Linked DNA regions of Homo sapiens. The protein of the gene in region 2 interacts with the protein of the main gene of each other region in a pairwise test. Each region holds a gene or a part of one and is shown on either strand. Other genes may lie near its edges.

Evidence for each region. The genes of interacting proteins can lie anywhere in the genome.
Region 1: the proteins of RC3H1 (region 2) and CEP135 interact in binary tests that used the Homo sapiens proteins (3 or more experiments, as listed by UniProt).

What each region holds. Positions count from the first base shown.
Region 1 is NC_000004.12:56,014,945-56,021,944, reverse strand, and holds part of CEP135 (centrosomal protein of 135 kDa), read right to left. Parts: intron 4,298-7,000; coding exon 4,088-4,297; intron 2,593-4,087; coding exon 2,390-2,592; intron 1,270-2,389; coding exon 1,165-1,269; intron 1-1,164. UniProt on the Homo sapiens protein: Centrosomal microtubule-binding protein involved in centriole biogenesis. Acts as a scaffolding protein during early centriole biogenesis.
Region 2 is NC_000001.11:173,942,279-173,949,464, reverse strand, and holds part of RC3H1 (roquin-1), read left to right. Parts: intron 1-1,882; coding exon 1,883-2,096; intron 2,097-2,628; coding exon 2,629-2,719; intron 2,720-2,856; coding exon 2,857-2,989; intron 2,990-5,849; coding exon 5,850-6,023; intron 6,024-7,186. UniProt on the Homo sapiens protein: Post-transcriptional repressor of mRNAs containing a conserved stem loop motif, called constitutive decay element (CDE), which is often located in the 3'-UTR, as in HMGXB3, ICOS, IER3, NFKBID, NFKBIZ, PPP1R10, TNF, TNFRSF4 and in many more mRNAs.

The DNA of each region.
Region 1 (7,000 bases), on a different chromosome or scaffold from region 2:
AATCCTCCCACTTCGGCTTCCTGAGTAGCTGGGACTACAGGCACCCATCACCATGCCCCAGCTAATTTTCAAAAATTTTTTTGTAGAGATGGTGTTTTGCCATGTTGCTCACGCTGATTTCAAACTCGTGGGCTCAAGTAAATCCACCTGCCTTGGCCTCCCAAAGTGCTGGGATTGCAGGCATGAGCCACCAAGCCAGGCCTTTATGAAATCGTAAATATTGATTTCATAGCAAATTGTCACTATACTTCAAATAGCACATCACTACAAAGTTTTGACGTAAATAGGTAAGAATAACTCAAAAACTGATCTAACAAGCAATTTGGCCACTAATTGAGAATGAAATCTCAGGAATGCAGATGTCTATGGTATTAATATAGTAGGAAAGAGTAATGGAAGACAAGTAACTTGGCAACTGATTTTCAAGTTAGACTTCGATTTAAAGCAGGTCTCAATCCGGGTTAGTAACACCTGGGGATTAAATTTTTCAACGTAAAGCAAATGAACCAAAATATGAGTGAATATGAAAATTACCAAGCTGTAGGGAATACATTGAAGAGGTTAAGGGTACAGGTTTTAGAATTAAAATCTGTTTGGTTTCCTACCACTTACTATTTATGTGATCTCAGTTTCCTATAAGGTAGGCATAATAATAGATTGTTGGTGGGATTCATCAGACACTTATATAGTGTCTGGTCCACATTTGTTAACTGCTGTTACTATCTTCAAATCATTACCTTTATTATGATTTGTATGTGGAACATCCTACTTGAACCATACATTTTGGAGCTCTTATAGGGATTGTTGTTGCTTCTCTATACTCTTTGAAATACTTTTGGATTCTAATTTTGTCCTGCGGAATGCTATAGGAAATATTTATCCAATACTTCCTATTTTACCTTATTTTTCAGATTATTAAACAATTTTATTCAATAAATATTTATATAGCATCCGCTATGTAATACTTGCTATTTTAGTTACTGTAGAGCTATTATCTTCCCCAACACTTGTTGCCTTTTTTAAAAGGAAGAATTACCAAAGAAATGTACTTTATGTATTAGCTTTTTAAAAAGTTTGTTATTTGTAAAGCCATATTAAATACTTTCTGAAGTACAATAGAGAACACATAAAAACATTGTCAAATGTAAAAAAAATTTGTCTTACCGTTCGTATCTTTCAGTTGAGATCTGCCTTTTCAGAGCATCATAATCTGTTTGTAACTGTGCCACTTTAGCTCGAAGCATGGTGTTTTCCCGGCTTTGACTAGTTCTTAAAAACAAATTAAAAAATCAAGAAATAAACGTTCCGTTTTGTAGAGTCAGGTGCTGTGGGTTTTTTAAATTAATAAAGAGAAGATCAAGACCTTTCAACAAGAATTCTCTAAACTTCTAGAGCTTTTATCACATTTTCTTTTTCATTCATTTAGTTTATTTATGAAACATGTACTGAACATCTATTATGTGCTAAGCACTAAAGCAATGCTAGGGATACAAATTTGAACGAGACATAAATGGTAACACCAAGATGTAAAGTGTCTTCATTGGCTCTTTCTTGACTCTTGCCTTGGAAAGAGAAATATTAATATTTTTAATACCTTTCAAAAGCTCATTCTTCCATGTGTACTCTACTCTGGGTTTCTTTCCCTCTTCCTACAAATATGTCTAAATCCTTCTATTCTAAAAATATGACATAATCAGTCTCTCCCAAAGTAATCAATACATGTATGTGGGTCAAATCTCATAGCCTTTTTAGAGTCCTTTTTCCTAATCTACAGCATAAGACACAGCCACCTCTTCTTCTCCCGAGAACACTTTCTCCTTCACTGACTCCTCTGTCCATTCCTCAACTGTAGGCGCTTTCCTAACGTTTTCTCTTCTCATTACTCCCACGGTACAACCTCTGTAGTGAAGATATACAGGTCTGCACCTCCCAACACGATGTTTCTCCCGAGTCAGTCTCCTAAATTTCCAAAAGCAGCAGATGTATAAGCCAAATATTTTGGTTTTGGGACAGCGTCTCGCTCTGTCGCCCAGGATGGAGTGCAGTGGTGCAATCTCGGCTCACTGCAACCTCCACCTCCTGGGTTCAAGTGATTCTCACGCTTCAGCCTCCTGAGTAGCTGGGACTATAGGTGTGTGCCACCACGCCTGGCTTTTTTTTTTTGTATTTTTAGTATAGACGGGGTTTCGCCATCTTGCCCAGGCTAGTCTCAAACTCCTGAGCTCAGGCAATCTACCCGCCTTGGCCTCCCAAAGTGCTGGGATTACAGGTGTGAGCCACTGCACCTGGCCTATCTTTCATACTCTTAACCTTTCCTCCACTTCAAAAAAATTAAAAAACTATCCTTCACAAGCAATTGTCTTTGCATAAGTTGACTTAAGACACTTACAATTTGCTTTCAGAAAGGGTTAACTTCTCCTTAAGTAGCTGGATTTCTGTATCCTTCTCGTGGGAGGTTAAGTGAGAATGAAATTCTTTATCTCTGTTTGTAGCCAACAATGATTCGAGGTTTTTAACTGTATGTCTCTCATTTGAAAGTTGTTTTTTCAGTAGGTCTGACTCTGACTTTACATTTTCTAATTCCACCACAACCTACGTGAAAAACAAAGTAAGATTACTTCAGTACAATTTTAAACTTACTCTGAAAAAATTATTTATCTGACAATATAGCTCTGTGGAACTATTCACCTATCACTTGTTTCATTTTGGGTATGGGTTAAAGATTATGAACTGTTTCTTTAAGTATAAGAAAGACACTTTATTTTCAAAATAATCTTTGCTATTTTTACTATGGGCTTATTTGGCTATAGGATCTACTCAAATCCTCAAATAATTTTTAGTCATGGTACCTTATCAAGAGACGGTCATTAAGATAAAACCACAAGGGCAATGAGACCCTTCTGGTTGAATATGCTTACTCTGACTACATAATCAAGCCAGTATTATAGTTTCTCAGTACCTGAAAATAAAGATACTACTAGATGAGTGAAAATTGAAAACATCCATGTTTGAAAACAAACACTAGGTTATTTAAAGTAATGCCTCCATCTGGGAAAGGTAAATTCTAGCTAAATAGACTTGTTTAATTAAGATTTAAACACCTTGAGATTTTTATCGGGAAAAATATTCTACTTCGGAAGCACTGAACTGTTCAATCCTTCATTCAAGTCTTACTTTTTTTTTTTGAGACAAGGTCTCACTCTGTTGCCCAAGCTGGAGTGCAGTGGCACAATCTCTGCTTACTGCGGCCTCGACATCCTGGGCTCAAGTGAACCTTCCCTGCCTCAGCCTCCCGAGTAGCTGGGACTATAGGCACATGCCACATGCCTGACTAATTCTTTGTATTTTTTGTAGAGACGGGGTTTTGCCATGCTATCCAGGCTGGTTTCAAACTCCTGAGCTCAAGCAATCTGCCTGACTCGACTTCCCAAAGTGTTGGGATTACGGGTGTAAGCTATCGTACCTGGCCTCAAGTCTTACTTTTAAACAGAGAAAGAATGTATTAGGATATGCTGATTTATAATCAGAAAATTCATAATCTCCTAGATAGCCATCTATTCCAAAACATTACCCACTTTCATCACTACGTTTGCCTGAGAAATCTTGCAAAGAATCAAGCAGTCAAATCTGGTTGTCAAAATCCTGTAGTCAAAAGTAACTATTGTAGGCTGGGTGCAGTAGCTCATGCCTGTATCCCAGAACTTTGGGAGGCCAAGGCAGGCAGATCACGTGAGGTTGGGAGTTTGAGACCAGCCCGGCCAACATGGTGAAACCCCATCTCTACTAAAAATACAAAAATTAGCCAGGTGTGTTAGCAGATGCCTGCAATCCCAGTTACTCAGGATGCTGAGGCATCCTGAGATGCCTGAGGGAGAATTGGTTGAACCCAGGAGGCGGAAGTTGTGGTGAGTTGAGATCGCACCACTGAACTCCACCAGCCTAAGCGACAGAGCAAAACTCCATCACAAAAAAAAAAGTAACTACTCTAAAAGGAAACAAGTATATGCATGGTGTGGTGAATACTAAAGTAAAATAATTAGAGTAGGGCTCAATAAAACAATGTGCCAAGACAATTTATCTTTCTTACCCTCTCAAACTCAAGGTTTTTCGAATTCAATTGCTGGGTCATAATATCTTTGCCTGAATCAAGTTTAATGCAAAGTTCTCTAAGAGATGACAAGTCATTTAATACTGTTGCTTTCTCATCTTCTTGATGTCTCAGCTCTTCTTCTAATCGAGACATGGCTTTTGCCATTGATGAGATCTGAGATTCATAAGCATGATGGGCATTTATGTGCTGAAAAAAGAAAAAGAAACAAGTAAAAAGTTAAAATAACCCAATAATTTTAAGAACTTGAATTTGTACAGCCAACAATCTCACTTTAGAAAAATATGACAGCCAATTTTTGCTTATTTTAAAATACTCTCAGGAAGCTGCCTACTATTTAAAGATGACCTATTTAATGCTTAACAAAATGAATTGTGTATAATTATTAATCATGGTAACTGAGTATCTCATGTATATATTTATATATTTGGAAATGTAAAAAAGAAAGTTATTGTATCAGGGTGTTGTGAATATGAGGGATTTTTGAGGTTGCATTAAATTTTTCCTTTAAAAATTATCTTTGTTATAATAATGTCATTTCAAGAAAAAGTAATATATATACATATCACTCCTCAACTGTCTTCAGTTAAATTCTAAATTCCAAAAATGGGGTTTACTTCAAAACTATATACCTGGATAATTTAAATTTAACTTAAATAAATAGTAAACAACTTTAATATTTTAATAACTGAAATAATGAAAAAAATTTCAAATAATGATAAATTTTTTTTTCTAGAAGAATCCACAGTTGAAATTTCTCACAATTTGAATTATGAGTAATAAATACAAACTGATATAAACTCTACTTCTAGGTTTTGGGGAGAATTCTGCATTGAAAAATAAAATTATTGCAAGAGGCTATTAAAACGGCTGGGTGGCTCACGTCTGCAACCCCAACACTCTGGGAGGCTGAGGTGGGAGGATCACTTGAGCCCAGGAGTCTGAGACCAGTCCGGGAAACATAGTGAGAACCTGTCTCTACCAAAAAATACAAAAATTAGCTGTGTGGTGGCACATGCCTATAGTCCTTGCTACTTGGGAGGCTGAGGCGGGAGATCACCTGAGCCCACGAGTTCAAGGCTGCAGTGAACTGTGGTTAAGCCATTCCACTCCAGCCTGGCCGATGGTGCAAGACCCTGACTCTTAAAAAAAAAACTCCACAAATCCACATTGAAAATCTAATATTGTGCTGTGAAGATTTAATCAATTTCAAAAATTGCAGAAAAGTATTTAGATTTTTTAGTGCATTAATAAAAGCTCCCCTAAACAAATATAATACTTTAGTATTGTATTGTGAAATTGGCTTATACTTTAGTAACAGCCAATTTCATATACCACATACGAACATGAACAATAATAAAGAACAAAATAATTGAAGATTAGTTGAGAACAGTTGCTGAAAAACTCTTTTGAAGGTTGAAAGGCACTCCTTTAATTAGTTATTATACCCTTCTTAACAGAAAAACTTTTAGAGATAGTGTATTAGTTCCCTAGGGCTGCCATAACCAACTACCACAAATTAGGTGTTTTAAAAAAACAAAAATTCATCCTTTCACAGTTCTGGAGGCTGGAAGTCCAAAATGTGGGTGTTAGCAGGGCTGGTTCTTCCAGAGCTTCTATGGGAGAATCTGTCCCATGCCTCTCTCCTAGCTTCTGGTGGATGCTGCCAGTGCTTGGTGTTCACTCACTTGCAGACATATCACTCCAATCTCTGCCTCCATCTTCACACAGCCTTCTCTGTACGTACTGTATCTAAATTTCCCTCATCTTTGAAGGACACCCATCATTCACTAGGTTAGGGCCTGCCTTAATCCAGCACAACCTCATCTTAACTTGTTCACATTTGCAAAAACCCTGTTTCCAAATAAGGTCATGTTGACAGATACTGGGGATTAGGATTTCAACGTATCTTTCTGGTGGACACAATTCTCCTACCCTCTGATCCCCCAAAATTCATGTCCTTCCCATATACAAAACACATTCACTCCATCCTAACATTCTAGCATCAACTCTAAACCCAAAATCTCATCTAAGCATCATCTGAATCACATATGGGTGAGACTCTGAATATGGACCACACTGGGACAAAATTCTCCTCCATCTACAGACCTATGACACTGGAAAACAAGTAAACTGCTTCCAAAATAAAATGGTGGGATAGGCATACCATAGAAGTCCCACTGTAAAAGGGAGAAAATAAAAGGAATAAAGGAGTTACTAGTCCAAAGTAAGTCTGCAACCAAGCAGGCTGAATCCATTAGATTTCAAAACCCAAAAATAATCATTTGTGCCTTCATTCTCTGGTGCTCTGTTCTCTGAGCCAGCCAGGGGGGCCCCACCCTGTGTCCCACAGGGGCAGTGGCCTTGCCCTCTGAAACCAAGCAGACAGACAGTAGCTCCATCATCTGGACCTGTGATGTCTGGGCTTGTGGTGGTAGCCACAGCCCCACCAGCCTCTGAGTTGCCCTTGGTGGCCTTGCTGGTCTCTGAGCTACCCTTAAGAGTCATTCTGTCCTTTTCTTGAAGGTGAACTTGCAGCCAACTAGCTCTGTTGGTCTGTCTTCTGCTAGTAGGATCCCAGAAGTCCAACAACCTTCCTTCTTTTCATCCCATTTCTGTTCCTTTCAGTCAAAGCTGGAAGTGATTCTGCTGAGATGATTGATTGGATTCATGAGTCACATATCTAATCTCTTCACCAAGAGGTTTTCTAGCCATACTCTGGAGCACACTATCTGGATAGGCTAAGAATTTTCCAAAATCATCAAGTCCTGGTTTATTTTTTTTTCCTTTTTTTTGAGACAAGGTCTTACTTTGTCACCCAGGCTGGAGTGCAGTGGCATGATCTCGGCTCACTGCAGCCTTGACCTCCTGGGCTCAGCCCCCCAAGTAGCT
Region 2 (7,186 bases):
CCTGGGAGGCAGAGGTTGCAGTGAACCGAGATTGCGCCACTGCACTCCAGCCTAGACAACAGAGTGAGACTCCATCTCAGAAAAAAAAAAAAAGAAATGGTATTGCTGAAAGGTATGCCTTCACTATTATTCTTAACCCATTTGTCCTTATTAACTCTAACAGAGGTTTCCTAGGTTATTATATAGATTTTCATAGATAAATACTTTTCCAGGTGGTTAAGAAAAGACCAATATTTGCAATAAAAAAAGATTTGGATGCTGATAACCACTGTAAATGAGTGAAGTGATATCTAATAGCATAAATACAATTATATGCCAGCCCCACCCCCCCCCCCAAAAAAATAGAGAGTTTTAGAGGAAGAAAAAGCAAAATAAAATTTTTTTTTTTGCAGTAGAATTACAGAAGCATTGTTTTTAGGCTGTAGTAAGGCTCTTATTGGAACGAAATGAGGGGAAATTAGGCAGGAATCTTTGCCTTGTACTTGGCTTTCAAAAGGAAAGGGTTATTATATTAAAGTAACACGAGTATTAGCAAAATAAAACTCATTTTCTTAAATCAGTAAAGAATTAAAAAGTTTGGGCCAGGCATGGTGACTCAAACCTGTAACCCCAGCACTTTGGGAGGCCAAGGTGGGAGGATTGTTTGAGCCCAGGAGTTCAAGACCAGCCTGGGCAACATAGCAAGACCCCATCTCTTCAAAAATTTTTTTAATTAGCCAGGTGTGGTGGTGCACGCCGGTCCCAGCTACTTGAGAAGCTGAGGCAGGAGGATCGCTTGAGCCCAGGAGGTTGAGGCTCACACATCACTGCAGTCCAACCTGGTGACAGCAGAACCCTGTCTCAAAAACAAACAAACAAAAAGTTGCAATCCAATCTAGAGGTAATTGAAAACCTCCCAAATAGGTGAAAGAAGTCTAACCTAGTATTTCTCAAATGTTAATGTGCATACAAACTATATATTTGTGTGTCTATATATATGTGTAACATTATATAGGGATAAATATATATTTGTATGCATATATATATACTAGGTCATTATATATATATATATATTTCTTCAAGATTGAATTGGCTTTTATTAGTGATTGATTAATCAGGAAGCATTTCATCTGTGAAATAGAAAGATGCTCTAATGAGCTAAACAGAGAAAAGGAACAAAACTCAGATTAGTTGTTTCAAAGTTATTTTCCTTATAGGACTAAAGCAGAAGGGACTTACCAGTTCAAATTGAGTGGTCCTCTTATGATTGATTGCTGTGAATCTCCTGTTTTTTGGAAAACTGGCCCATTTTCAAGTTCAGTTTGATTTTGTGGCATCTAGCATAAGTGATTACATTCTGCTTTGATCTGGTGTCTTGGGGCTTAGTGCGGGAGCTTAGTCCAAAACAGTGGCCTCCCATAAATTTTAAAAATATATTTCTTAGGCCAGGTGCAGTGGCTTATACCTGTAATCCCAGCACTTTGGGAGGCTGAGCTTGAGGCAAGCTAAGCCCAGGAGTTTGAGACCAGCCTGGTCAACATAGGGAGACCTCATCTCTATAAATAATCAAAAAAAATTAGCTGGGTGTGCTGGTACATGCCTGTAGTCCCAGCTACCTAGGAGGCTGAGGTGGGAGGATCACTGGAGCCCAGGAGGTTGAGGATGCAGTGAGCCATGAGAGTGCCCCTACGTTCCAGCCTGGGCCACGGTGTGAGACCCTGTCGCCCCTCACCTCAGAGGTTTAAAAACCAGTGTTACATAAAAACAACCAAAGGTAACTAATGATTTTAGTCTTACCAGTAAGAGTGCTGTACTCTTCTTTAACCTTATTACAGATCTAGAAAAAATTAGGTTACAGAGCGATCTGAGTGTGGGGTAATTTCTCATTTTGCTTTTTTATCAGAATGTGGAGAGTAAAGGAATGAGGGACCAGCGATTAGATCTTCAGAGAAGAGCAGCAGAAACCAGTGATGATGACCTCATCCCATTTGGAGACCGACCAACAGTGTCTCGGTTTGGTGCCATCTCACGAACTTCCAAAACTATATATCAGGGTGCTGGTCCAATGCAGGCTATGGCACCTCAGGGAGCTCCTACAAAATCTATTAACATTTCAGGTAAGAATCTCAGAGGTAAGCTGACCTAAAGGGTTCATAATCTTGACTTTCAGCATTACCCCTGCTCTCCATTTACTATCAGTGTTTTTAGTAATCTTGCAAGGCAGTAATTTTCAAACTTTCCATGGAATCATCCCTGTAAGAAAGGTAATATAACCCAGAGAATTTTAGGTATATAAACTGAAATTAAATGTCTATATGTGAAGCTTTCCTAATGTTTCTTCCCCACTCCACCCCCACCCCAAATAGCTTAATTGTTATTTGGGGGAATAACATTCTCATTATACAGTAATTTGGAAGAAAAACTACAAAGACTGAAAGTTCATTGGGGAAGAAACAAACATATATCAGCACCCAGCATCATGCTGCCTGATATTTAGAAAAACAAAGTTAAAGAATTTTAAAAATCTGGACATTTAGGGTAGATACCAGATACCTGTGTATGCAATACGCTGATGTCTTTCAGATTATGAATACCTTAAAAGAAGAATCAAATCTGTGAATTATACCATAATAAATCATTCTCTTACAGATTATAGTCCATATGGAACCCACGGTGGCTGGGGAGCTTCTCCATATTCACCTCATCAAAACATACCTTCTCAGGGACACTTCAGTGAGAGGTATGAGTCATTCTTTTTACTTGAACAAACATGTAGAAACCTTTAAAATTAGGCAACTTCTTTTTGTTTTTCTGGTCAGTAATATGTTAACAAAATGAAATGTTAAAATTTGATTCACACTTTCTTTCTAACCAAAGGGAGAGAATATCTATGTCAGAAGTGGCCAGTCATGGAAAACCCCTTCCATCTGCTGAGAGAGAACAGCTACGACTAGAATTGCAGCAATTGAACCATCAGATTAGCCAGCAGACCCAGCTACGTGGACTAGAGGTACCAGCCTAGAGAGCCATTTTATTCCAATTTTTGAAGGGTTCTCAGAGATTTTAAATAGGAACTTTTGAGGCACTGTGAACAAAAAACTTTAAGGTCTATTTCTTAGGAGTTAGTATAGGTTTCTATTCTTCAAAGAATTCAATACTGGATTTAGCTCTGGGACAACAGAAAACGTAAAATTTCTGCTACCTAAAAATAGAAAACAGATTACGTAAAATTTCCCAACAGGAGCTTATATTCCCTGATGGCACATTTAAGGTTTTTTTTGTTTGTTTGTTTGTTTGTTTGTTTTGGTTTTCTTTTTTTGAGACAGTATTGCTCTGTTGCCCAGGCTGGAGTGAGGTGGCGTGATCTCAACTCACTGCAACCTCCACCTCCTGGGTTCATGCAATTCTCCTGCCTCAGCCTCCTGAGTGGTTGGGGTTATAGATGTACACCACCATACTCAGCGAATTTTTTGTATTTTTAGTAGAGATAGGGTTTCACCCCTGTAATCCCAGCACTTTGGGAGGCCGAGGCAAGTGGATCACAAGATCAGGAGTTTGAGAACAGTCTGGCCAACATAGTGAAACCCCGTGTCTACTAAAAATACAAAAAATTAGCCGGGCATGGTGGTGTGCACCTGTAATCCCAGCTAATCAGGAGGCTGAGGCAGGAGAATCGTGTGAACCCAGGAAGCAGAGGTTGCAGTGAGCCAAGATTGCGCCATTGCACTCCAGCCCAGGCTACAGTGTGAGACTCCGTCTCAAAAAAAAAAACAGAACTTTGACTTAAAAAGTAAAACATAGTTCCGGTGTAATAAGAATAATAACACTTTTCATTTACGTAGTTCTGTACCATTTAAAAATCACTACCACTTATCTTATTTGACCCTTAGAATATCCCTGATATTTTAGGCAGGTGGTATTGTCCTCCTTTTTTGATTGAAGTATATGAGTTTCTCAGAAGTTGAAACACGAACCCAAGTCTTCATACTCCAGATTCAGTGTTCTTTCCATCATGCTGCCTGACACTTAGAAAAACAAAACTAAAGAATTTTTAAAATCTGGCTGGACGTGGTGGTTCATGCTTGTAATCCCAGCACTTTGGGAGGCCAGAGCAGATGGATTGCTTGAGCTCAGGAGTTTGAGACCAGCCTGGGCAACATGGCAAAATCCCTTCACTACAAAAAGTGCAAAAATTGGCCAGGCATGGTAGTGCACGCCTGTAGTCTCAGCTACTCAGGAGGCTGAAGGCAGGAGGATCACCTGAGCCCAGGGAGGTTGAGGCTGCAGTGAGCCCTGATGGTGCCACTGCACTCCAGCCTGAGTGACAGAGTGAGACTCTGTCTCAAAAAAAAAAAAAAAAGGAATTTTTAAAATCTTTTAAGTGCCACATAAGGAAGACTAGGTTTTGTTTATACATCATCCTTTACGTTGGAACATATTCTTTGAATATGGAAAACTGAAGACATTCTAATGATAAATATATTGTCCTTTCTGGAGGAAAAAATGGTACTGTTAGAACATTAGTCTGTCTTTCTACCATAATCTTTAATAATAAGTAAGCCATCACTTTAGGGGGGAAAAAAAGTTATAAGACAGACTTTCTTAGTAGACTTTCTTTTTAGGAAGACCAGTAGGAGATTGTTTTTGGAACATATAGCTGGCTTGTGCCCCTATGTACGCAATTAGATTTAGGAATTTTAAAAATCTATGTAATACTTAGATTTTGTCTGCTTTCGCCATTGCTTATTTACATTGATTCAGAACGTCTTGCCGATTCCTGTCATAGAAACAGAATGCCATGTTTGCTTATGGCAATCTTTCGTTCATTAACTTTTTAAAGATTCAGACCTTCAACCCAATAAGGCATTACTCCATATCTTCAAATGCATGGTTTTTTGTTTGTTTGTTTGTTTGTTTTATATACTTTAAGTTCTAGGGTACATGTGCACAACGTGCAGGTTTGTTACATGTGGTATACATGTGCCATGTTGGTGTGCTGCACCCATTAACTCGTCATTTACATTAGGTATATCTCCTAATGCTATCCCTCCGCTTTCCCCCCACCACATGCATGATTTTTTGTTTTAAAGTTTCCAGGAGCATTTTCTGTCCAAAAAGACTATCAGTATTATTTAGAAACTTGCCACATATTTAACTCAGTACAGTTAAAAGTCCTTGCCATTACTGAGGTTTCATTGAAATAAGTTATAGGATTTACTTCAGAGAAAATTACCATTAAAAACAGAGGGGGAAAGATGCACATCTGTAGTTGACTTGTTTTTCTTCCATTTCCTTTTTTTTTTTTTTTTTTGAGAGACAAAGTCTCACTCTGTTGCCCAGGCTGGAGTGCATGGAGTGCAGTGGCATGATCATAGCAGCTCGCTGTAATCTTAAACTCCTGGGCTCAAGTGATCCTCCCTAGTAGCTAGGACTACGGGCCCACACCACCATCCCAGGCTAATTTTTTGGTTTTTTTATTTTTTATTTTTTGTAGAGGCGAGGTCTTGATATATTGCCCAGGTGGATCTCAAATTCCTGGCCTCAAGTGATCCTCCCACCTCAGCTTCCCAAAGTGCTAGAATTAAAGGCACAAGCCACCATGCGTAGCCAACTTCTCTTTCAAATCAGAAAATACAAGGAGCAATTTATACATAAGATGAAATTACTGTTTACTAAATTTAAATGTCCCTATTTTGTTATTTTTTTGTTTGAATGGTACTCAAAGAGAACAGCACCTTACAGTTGCATTATTTTGTTGCAAATGGCTGGGTGATAAGCTACTCAAGGCTGTGGTCTGGAATTGAGCCTGGTTATTCTGTGCATGGTGTGAAGTGTGTTGAGTTTTCTGTGTGCTTGGCTTTATGCACTAGGCTGTTAGTAACAGGCTGGTGTTGCAGAGGGAGGCAAACACCCTGGCAGGCCAGTCACAGCCCCCACCACCGCCACCTCCAAAATGGCCTGGGATGATCTCAAGTGAGCAGTTGAGCTTGGAACTGCACCAGGTGGAAAGGGAAATCGGGAAGAGAACACGGGAACTGAGTATGGTGAGTGTTATGGTGGGGAAAGAGAGGGAAGGTGAAATGAAATCTTTCATGTGGCTCTAGAATTATCTAGAGGCACAGAATCATCACTTCAAGGCACTCTGATGAGTGGTTAATATTTAAAATAATTCTCATGCAGGTGGGCTACCTTCCGATTTTATCATTCCCTTCCTCATTCTCTTGGTTTGGGTGTGTTCTTTGTCTTATAATTCTTCGTTAACTTTTAGGGAAAACAAGGTTTTAATGCTTCTGTAATTTAAGAACTTAATGGAAGTCTTAAATTTCTGTTTAGCATACTGATTAGGGAAGCAAATAGGATGGTGTTTACTATTTTGCAATGACAACATGTTATATAAAGATGTATTCACCAAATAACATTCTAGTTTCATAGCCTTTATAATGATGACCTATTTTTGCTATGAGTGATATGCAATCTGCACATTGTTTCCTGTATCCATTATGTATGCTTAGGAAAAACTATATCCATTAATATGCTTAGGATTTGCTTCATAGTGCACAGACATTCATTTTAGTAAATTTTGAATCTTAGGGGCTTCCTCAGGTTGCATGATATGATTTTTTTTGTTGCTTAGTTTTCATAATCTTTCTTTTTTTTTTTGAGGCGGAGTCTCTGTCGCCCAGGCTGGAGTGCAGTGGTGCGATCTCGGCTCATTGCAAGCTCTGCCTCCCGGGTTCACGCCATTCTCCTACCTCAGCCTCCCAAGTAGCTGGGACTAGGCGCCTGCCACCTCGCCTGGCTAATTTTTTGTATTTTTAGTAGAGACGGGGTTTCACCGTGTTAGCCAGGATGGTCTCGATCTCCTGACCTCGTGATCCGCCCGCCTCAGCCTCCCAAAGTGCTGGGATTACAGGTGTGAGCCACCACGCCCAGCCAGTTTTCATAATCTTTCTAAGCAAATAAATTGAGCATGCAGGTTTTTTTTGCTTTCAGTAAGTATGTTAAAGATATTTATTGTACTTTGGTTTTCTTTTCTTTTTTTTTTTTTTTTTTTTTTGAGACTGAGTCTCTGTCACCCAGGGTGGAGGGCAGTGGCCCAACCTCAGCTCACTGCAACCTCCGCCTCCCATGTTCCAGTGATTCTCCTGCCTCAGTCTCCCGAGTAGCTGGGATTACAGGTGCCTGCCACCACACCAGGGTAGTTTTT